Homo sapiens: one gene and its partner. The protein of the gene in region 2 interacts with the protein of the main gene of each other region in a pairwise test. Each region holds a gene or a part of one and is shown on either strand. Other genes may lie near its edges. The genes, in order: TFCP2L1 and CFAP20.

Region 1 (4,582 bases), on a different chromosome or scaffold from region 2:
TTTTTAGTAGAGACAGGGTTCCACCATGTTGGTCAGGCTGGTCACTAACTCCTGACCTCAGGTGATCCACCCTCCTCGGCCTCCCAAAGTGCTGGGATTACAGGTGTGAGCCACCGCGCCCAGCCCAGTCTATTTTCTTATCCAAGTGGGAAATCTTGAAATCCTTGCTCCAAGTTTCTTTTCCTCCACCTCTTAACAAAACTCTCCACATTAAAAAAAAAAAAAAAAAAAAAAAAATGAAGTCATCATCCTGCGACTTAGGGAGGAACTTGTTTCTGGACGTATTTTTTAAGCCAGGAACAGTGGCTCATGCCTGAAATCCCAGTACTTTGGGAGGCTGAGGTGAGAAGACTGCTTGAAGCCAGGGGTTTGAGATCAGCCTGGGCACCATAGTGAGACCCCACCATCTCTAAAAAAAAAAAAAAGGAAAAAGAAAGAAACAAAAAACCCAGCATTTTAAAAATGCCCTTACAAGGGACAAAGAATTCCTTGAGAACATGAATGACCTACAGGCAGGCAAGGCTTGTGTAAGGTCTCTAAATTATGAGCAGCACATAAACAAGTGCCAAATAAGTGCCAGTGCTCTTATCTTGATAACCCTCTTCCCTTCGTGGGTCCCTGACTAGGAATCCAATTAGCTGACCCCACTTGTCTGTATAAACAGAGTCACTGGTACAATCTGTTCCTCGCACATCATAAACAAGCGTCTCTACAACACAAACCCGGCACACACCCCATCAACATCTCATCAATTTTGAGAAGAAAAAGCCTGGCATTGAGCACACACCTGGAAAACCTGCCCTGTGTGGGCCTCCCCCGTCACCATCCACTGCCGAAAAATAAGGGTGCAAGGCCGTCTCGACTTTCCCCCACAGGGCGTCTTCCTTTTGTCAGAGCAGGGCACACTCCCAGCCCGGGTGGTTCTCTAGGAACACTGAGGATTGCATAATTTCATGTTTGCCCAGACCATGTCAAGTTAATAATCCACGGACTGCTGCCTTTAAATTTTTTAAACAGGGGCGGGTGGGCAGAGGAAGTTAAGAACCATCCCTCAACAGTAACTTGTTTCAAGCCTGGCATCTTTATTTGCCAAGGAATAAAAGTCACGAGAACATCAAACAGAAAGGGGGAAGGGAGTAAAGGCCTCTACCCTGGTGAGGTCAGACAGCTTGCAGAAGTTCTGCCAAGTGAGGAGACGACCAAAAATAAAATACAAAAAACGCAAGGAAAAGGACCAGACCCTCCCTCTAGAGTCAGGGGACCAGGGGCATATGCACAAACCGCCACCTTGGCCCTCACTGAGGGCAAAACTCCCAGCTTCCAAGAAGTGAAATAAAAAAGGGCAAGGACTTCTTTATCCATGGTCCCCCGATGACCCCAGAAGCCAATATGGCTTTACAGCACCACCCACTCCCAACGCTCACCCTCCTCCTTTCACCAAATCCTAAAAGGTACCTGAGCTACTCCAGACAAACTTCCATCTCGGTAGCAGATGTCAGAACTGTACCTCCCAGGCAAGGGAGAATTGTTCCCTAACGGGGTGAGGACATTGTAGGTATCTAGGAAGTTTCAAGTACACTCACCTTCAACTCAGGGTCACCTTCAAACTCATTGTTAAGATATGGCAACATACTTAATGGCAGCAAACTAAAACTTAGCCAAAGCTACAACTAAAACTTCAGTACAGTAAAAATGTATTCCATTGTAGCATTTCTTGCAAGTGAATGGACACTTAATCTCTGGGTGATTAACATCTCCTCCTGGGCTTCCCTCTGGTGACATCACCGTGGTCTGCCGGGTGGCTGTCAGCCTTTAAGGCTCTAGACCTTTGCCATCTCCGACTACTTTGGCCCATGAATAAAAACAGCAGATACATCCACTAAACCCAATCATTCCCCCGCCTCCAGGAAAAGGGGATGTCTTCAGGGAGGACAAATACCTACCAGCAGCCAGGAATTACAAATAACGTTTTAAGATCTAAGTGGGAACTTCTTGGGGCCAAAACTAGCACTTAAAGGTAGCTCTAGTATGGGGGCTGTCAATGCCTGTGACTCCTTCGGCCTCATCATTCATTTTCCTTGAGCCCATATCAAATGCCCTTTGGGTTAAATTAGGCACATTTCATAAACTGTGACTAAGATGGAAATAAGGACAGGCTAAAGCTGGTTCAGGCGAGTTCACAAAGTGAAATGACTGCCCATTAGTCCCGGCCAGCAGCAGAACAGGGAAAAACAATCCTCCGGGAGCGAGAGCACACGGGGTCCTACTGCTAAGAGGGGCCTGTGGGGAACTGTGCAAAACACGCAGGACTTACTTTCCCCTCTGAAGGGCACTACTCAAATCCCTCCAGCAGAAGAAAGATTTCCATCAAGGGCAATAACCACGCGGGCCTCGGGCGAACACGCGCAAGACCATCGCGGGAAGTGGGGCGGCCTGCCCCTCCGAGCCCGCCGCCCGCCCCTCGTCCAAGGAAGGGCACTGCAGAGGGCGCGAGGCTGGGAGAGGGGCCCCGGCGGAGACGGGCAAAGAGCAGGGGACGAACTTCCCCGGGCCGGGCACCAGGCTGCTGGCAGGAAGTTTCCTCTGCTTCTCCGATACGCGGGGGAGAGGAGGGCCGCAGGGGGCGGACGGGCCAGGGGAGGCGGCGGGCCGGCAGGTGCGCGCCCTGCACCCTCTCTGCCGCCTGGGAGGAGCCCTCGCAGACATAGGGCTCTGCGCGCTCGCCTCCCCAGCGGGCCCCCAACTCCGCACGTCGGGTCCCGCCGGCGTCCATCTGTCAGTCCCTAGGCGGGACGCTGGGCGGGTCTCTCAGTCCCCAGAGGGCGGACAGCGGGGAGGCCAGGGCCCAGCAGGGGCGCCCCCTCTCCGCCCCTGGACGTCCAACGGCGCCCGGCCCGCCGGCCCGGCCCGAGACCCGCGGGGACCGCGCGCGGCCCTTACCGCAGGTAGCTGCCGGAGTTGTGCTGGTTGTAGTGCTCGGGCTGCGTGTGCCAGAAGAGCATGGCTGGAACTCCCAGCGCGCCGACCGGGGCGCGGCAGCAAGCGCAGACGCGGGGCGCGCCGAGGACCCAGCGGCGGCTTCGCGCTCCGAACCCGCGGTGCCGGCCGGCTCGGCGCATTTATCGGCGGCCCAGGGGCGGGACAGCGGTGAGACCCGCCCCCCAGGAAGCGCGGCCCGGAGGGCGGCTCCCCGCGGCAGCCGCACCTGGCTGACTCCCGCGCGTGCCTTTCCGGCGAGCGAGCGCGCCTCCGGGGCGGCCAGACCAGAGGGCTCTAGGGCCGGCCGGGTGCTCTCCCCAAACTCCGATGTGGGGCTCAGGTGACCCTTGCCGCCCCCAACCCGCTCCACACGGCCCCTCTGGCCTCTGCTCCCCACTCTACGCCCAGGGCCGGTCTCCAGAGCGGCTCCGAGATTTCCAGCCTAGGCCCTCTCTGTCGCCTTTCCTCGCTCTTGTTTTTTCATAGCACTTCAGACGCTCTGAAATCATGGGGGTTTTTTTGTTGGTTTTTTTTTTTTTGAGACGGGGTCTCGCTCTGCCACCCAGGCTGGAGTGCAGTGGCGCGATCTCGGGGCTCACTGCAACCTCTCCTCCCAGGTTCAAGCAATTCTCCTACCTCAGCCTCCTGAGTAGCTGGGATTACAAGCGCCCCCCATCACGCCTGACTGATTTTTTTATTGTTAGTAGAGACGGGGTTTCGCCATGTTGGCCAGGCTGGTCTCGAACTCCTGACCTCAGGTGATCCGCCCACCTTGGCCTCCCAAAGTGCTGGCATTACAGGCGTGAGCCCCCGAGTCAGGCCGACATTTTTTTATTTTTTATTTTTACTTGTGTACTGATTGTCTTTCCCATTAGACTGTAAGCTCCAAGAGGACAGGGCCTGGCTCGCTTAACACCCCGTTACCTGCACTGCCTAGAACAGTGCATGGGACATAGTTAAGATAAATGTTTGTTGAGTAAACATAAAAAAAGAAAAAAGGAATGCACCAAAAGAGTAATCAGAGAAGCCTTCCTGGAGGAGGTGACATTGAGCTGAGACCTGATGGATGCAAAGGAAGCATCTCTGTGAACATCACCTAGGGAAAAATAGTTCCAGGCATAGTTCCCTACCCCCTTGGCAACAGTGACTGCCAAAGCCTTGAGGAAGACCTACTTGGCATGGCTGGTCTTGAGGAGAGCTTAGGAGATGAGGTGAGGAGGGCGGGGAAGATCAGAGGGCCTGGCAGGCCAGGACAAGGAGCTAGGATTTTATTCTGTGTTTTAAGCAGAGGAGTCACATGTATGATTTGCCTTTTGGAAAGATCAGTCTGGCAGCAGTGTAGACAGTGGGTCATGGGGTGGAGGGGAGGGCCATTAGGAGGGAGTGGAGTTCCCTGGAGCCCTGACCCCTATCCAGGTGCTATCCGGTTCTCCAGTACATGGCACAGCACCTGGCACAGAGGAGATGGGGATTCTGTCCCTGAGTATTAATCCAGTCAAATGACATCCCTTGGGGACCTGGTCCAGAACTCCCCACTCCCCCACGCATGGATGTGGGTAAAACCCTCCCTCACTCTGCTGTTCCTGCCCTCCTCCCTCCAGCC
Region 2 (3,500 bases):
GTCTTGGAGTAGGGGAGAAACAGCAGCAGCTGAGAGAAAGACAGGGTGACAGGAAAGACAGACAAAGGCGTTTTCATGAATTAATGCAATCTCATCTCATGTACTTTTAGGATACTATCTTGTTTTTTTTGAGACAAAGTTTTGCTTTTGTTGCCCAGGCTGGAGTGCAATGGCACCATCTCGGCTCACCGCAACCTCCACCTCCCGGGTTCAAGTGATTCTCCTGCCTCAGCCTCCCGAGTAGCTGGGATTACAGGCATGTGCCACCATGCCCGGCTAACTTTTGTATTTTTAGTAGAGACGGGATTTCTTCATGTTGGTCAGGCTGGTCTTGAACTCCTGACCTCAGCTCGCCTTGGCCTCCCAAAGTGCTAGGATTACAGGCGTGAGCCACTGCGCCCAGCCAGGATTACTACCATTAAGACCGAAAATTGGCTGGGCGCAGTGGCTCACGCCTGTAATCCCAACACTTTGGGAGGCCAAGGCAGGCGGATCACGAGGTCAGGAGATCGAGACCATCCTGGCTAACACGGTGAAAACCTATCTTTACTAAAAATGCAAAAAATTAGCTGGGCGTGGTGGCGGGCGCCTGTAGTCCCAGCTACTCCGGAGGCTGAGGCAGGAGAATGGCGTGAACCCAGGTGGTGGAGCCTGCAGTGAGCCGAGATCGTGCCACTGCACTCCAGCCTGGGGGACAGAGCAAGACTCTGTCTCAAAAAAAAAAAAAAAAAAAAAAAAAAAAAAAAAAGACTGAAAATTACAGCATGTTTTACACAAGTATAAGTGGGAACAGAACCTCCTGGTATTTTCCTTACAACCAGAAGTAATGTTTACATTAAACGTAAGAGTCTTTTAATAAATATAAGATTTGCTGGTCCCAGATGTCAAGGTAACATTAAAGAAACCCCTAATTTCTTCTAAGCTGTTGGTTTAGAAACTTACAAAAGCTTCTATCAGGAAACTGTATAGCCAGGAATACAGACCTTAAGAAGCTAATAATGTCAAGTGTGATAAGAAAGAAGTAAATTAACTTACCCTGAAGAGTTAAGGAAGGTCACTCTGAGAAAGGCCTTTGAACTGTGACTGGAGCCTAATGAAAAGATGGGAGTGAGGCTTGTGGGGTGGTGAGGGGCAGCGCCCAGCAGAAGGACCAGGAAGTGCAAAAGCTTGAAGGTGAGAGAACAGGACTTCCTTCAATTCAGTAGGAGGCTACTACTAAGAGGGGGAACCGGGTGAAGTGAGTCCCGCCTGGAGAACAAGTGAAGCAGGTGCCAGAGCATGGGTTATGTGGCCTTAGAGCCACATTAAGGGCTTAGGGCTGGGCGAGCCACGGTGCAACAACTAAATTCTTCTCATTTCAGGAGTCTGGTTTTACAGTACTTCCTATTCCTAGAAATCTGGATGGTGGGCTAAGTTCAAACATCTTATTTTAGTTTTGAGCAAATTCCTCAGTCCCTGCCATATTTAATTCTGTATGTCATTACTTATAAAGTACTAACTACAGTCATGCATTGCTTAAGGATGGGATTACGTTCTGAGAAATGCCTCATTAGGCAGTTCCATGGCTGTGTGAATATCAGAGTGTACTTACACAGACTTAGACAGTACAACATCCTACACACCCGGGCCATATGGTATAGCCTATTGCCCCTAGGCTACAATCTGTACAGCATACTACTGTACTGAATACTGTAGGCAACTGTAACATAATGGTACGTATTTGTGTGTCTAAACATAGAAAAGGTACAGTACTGTATAAACGATAAAAAGTGACACAACTGGATAGGGCACTGGCCATGAGTGGAGCATGCAGGACTGGAAGTTGCTCTGGGTTGAGTCAGTGAGTGAGTGGTGAGTGAATGTGAAGGCCTAGGACATTACTGAACACTTTGTAAACACAATACACTTATGCTACAATACATTTATTTTATTTAGTTATTTAGTTAGTGCTGGGATTACAGGCATGAGCCACTGTGCTTTAGTTATTTAGTTAGTGCTGGGATTACAGGCATGAGCCACTGTGCCTGGCCAGACTACACTAAATTTATTAAAAATATTTTTCTTTCATCAATAATAAATTAACCTTGGCTTACTGGAACTTTTTTACTTTATAAACTTTAAAAATTTTAAAAACTTTTAGACTATTTTGTAATAACACTTAGCTTAAAACACAATGTTCAACTGCACAAAAATATTTTCTTTCTATATATCTTTATTCCATAAGGTTTTTCCTATTTCTTTTTTTAACTTTTTAAACTTTTTTGTTAAAAACTAAGACACAAACACACACATGAGCCCAGGCCCGCACAGGGTCAGGATCATTAACATCAATCACAGTCTCCACCTCCACATGCTGTCCCACTGGAAGGTCTGCAAGAGCAATAACGCACATGGCGCTGTCATCTCCTATGACAACACTGCCTTCTTCTGAAATATCTCCTGAAGGACCTGCCTAAGGTTATTTTACAGTTAACTTTTTGTTCTTGTTGTTAAGTAGGAGTACATTCTAAAATTATGATAAGGCCAGGCACGGGAACTCATGCTTGTAATTCTAGCACTTTGGGAGGCTGAGGCAGGAGGACTGCTTGAGCATAGGAATTCAAGACCAGCCTGGGCAACATGGAGAAACCCCGTCTCTACAAAAATACAAAAATTAGTGAGGTGTGGTGGTGAGGGCCTGTAGTCCCAGCTACTTGGGAGGTTGAGGTGGGAGGATTGCTTGAGCCCAGGAGATGGAGACTGCAGTGAGCCCTGATTGCACTACTGCATTCCAGCCTGGGCAACAGCAAGACCTTGTCTCAGAAAAATAAAATACAATAAAATAATGATAAAGAGTATAGTAAATACATAAGCCAGTAACATAGTCATTTATCATCAAGTGTTAGGCACTGAACATCATTGTATATGCTATACTTTTACATGACTGGCAGTGCAGTAGGTTGGTTTACACCTACTCACAAACACGAGTAATGCATTTGACTTAACGAACAACTATTATGTCACTAAGCGACAGGAATTTTTCAGCTCCATGATAATCTTATGGCACCACTGTCATGTGTAAGGTCTGTCGTTGACTGAAACGCCATCATGTGGTGCATGACTACATATACTGTAACTCTGTTGCTAAGGACTTTATATACAGCTTCATTGAATCTTCATAACCGTGAGAAATAGACGAGAAAACTGAATGGTTAAGGACATAGCTAAGATCACACAACTGGAACACAGCACAGCCAGGATGCAAATCCAAGGTGTCTGACCACGCCCTAGCATTGAGGTTTTTCGGTAAGGTACTGTTCTTCTGCTTAAGGAACCTGCAGTCCAGTGGACGATCTACAATAGAAAACTGCCAGCCACAGGCACACCCATGAGGCTTAACTCAAGTTCTCAATGAAAAGAATGTTTAAGTTGAGATTGGAAGGATGAGATGGAGGGGAGGGGCTGTGAGCTTCAGAGAGTCAAATAAATTGCCGGTGTGACAAACACTAACGAACAAGCCA

What was found.
Region 1: the proteins of CFAP20 (region 2) and TFCP2L1 interact in a two-hybrid assay, tested with the Homo sapiens proteins (one large-scale study listed by BioGRID and IntAct).

What each region holds. Positions count from the first base shown.
Region 1 is NC_000002.12:121,282,108-121,286,689, forward strand, and holds the start of TFCP2L1 (transcription factor CP2-like protein 1), read right to left. Parts: upstream 3,096-4,582; 5' UTR 3,003-3,095; coding exon 2,941-3,002; intron 1,538-2,940; exon of another isoform or gene 788-1,537; intron 1-787. UniProt on the Homo sapiens protein: Transcription factor that facilitates establishment and maintenance of pluripotency in embryonic stem cells (ESCs).
Region 2 is NC_000016.10:58,122,882-58,126,381, forward strand, and holds part of CFAP20 (cilia- and flagella-associated protein 20), read right to left. Parts: intron 1-3,500. UniProt on the Homo sapiens protein: Cilium- and flagellum-specific protein that plays a role in axonemal structure organization and motility. Microtubule inner protein (MIP) part of the dynein-decorated doublet microtubules (DMTs) in cilia axoneme, which is required for motile cilia beating.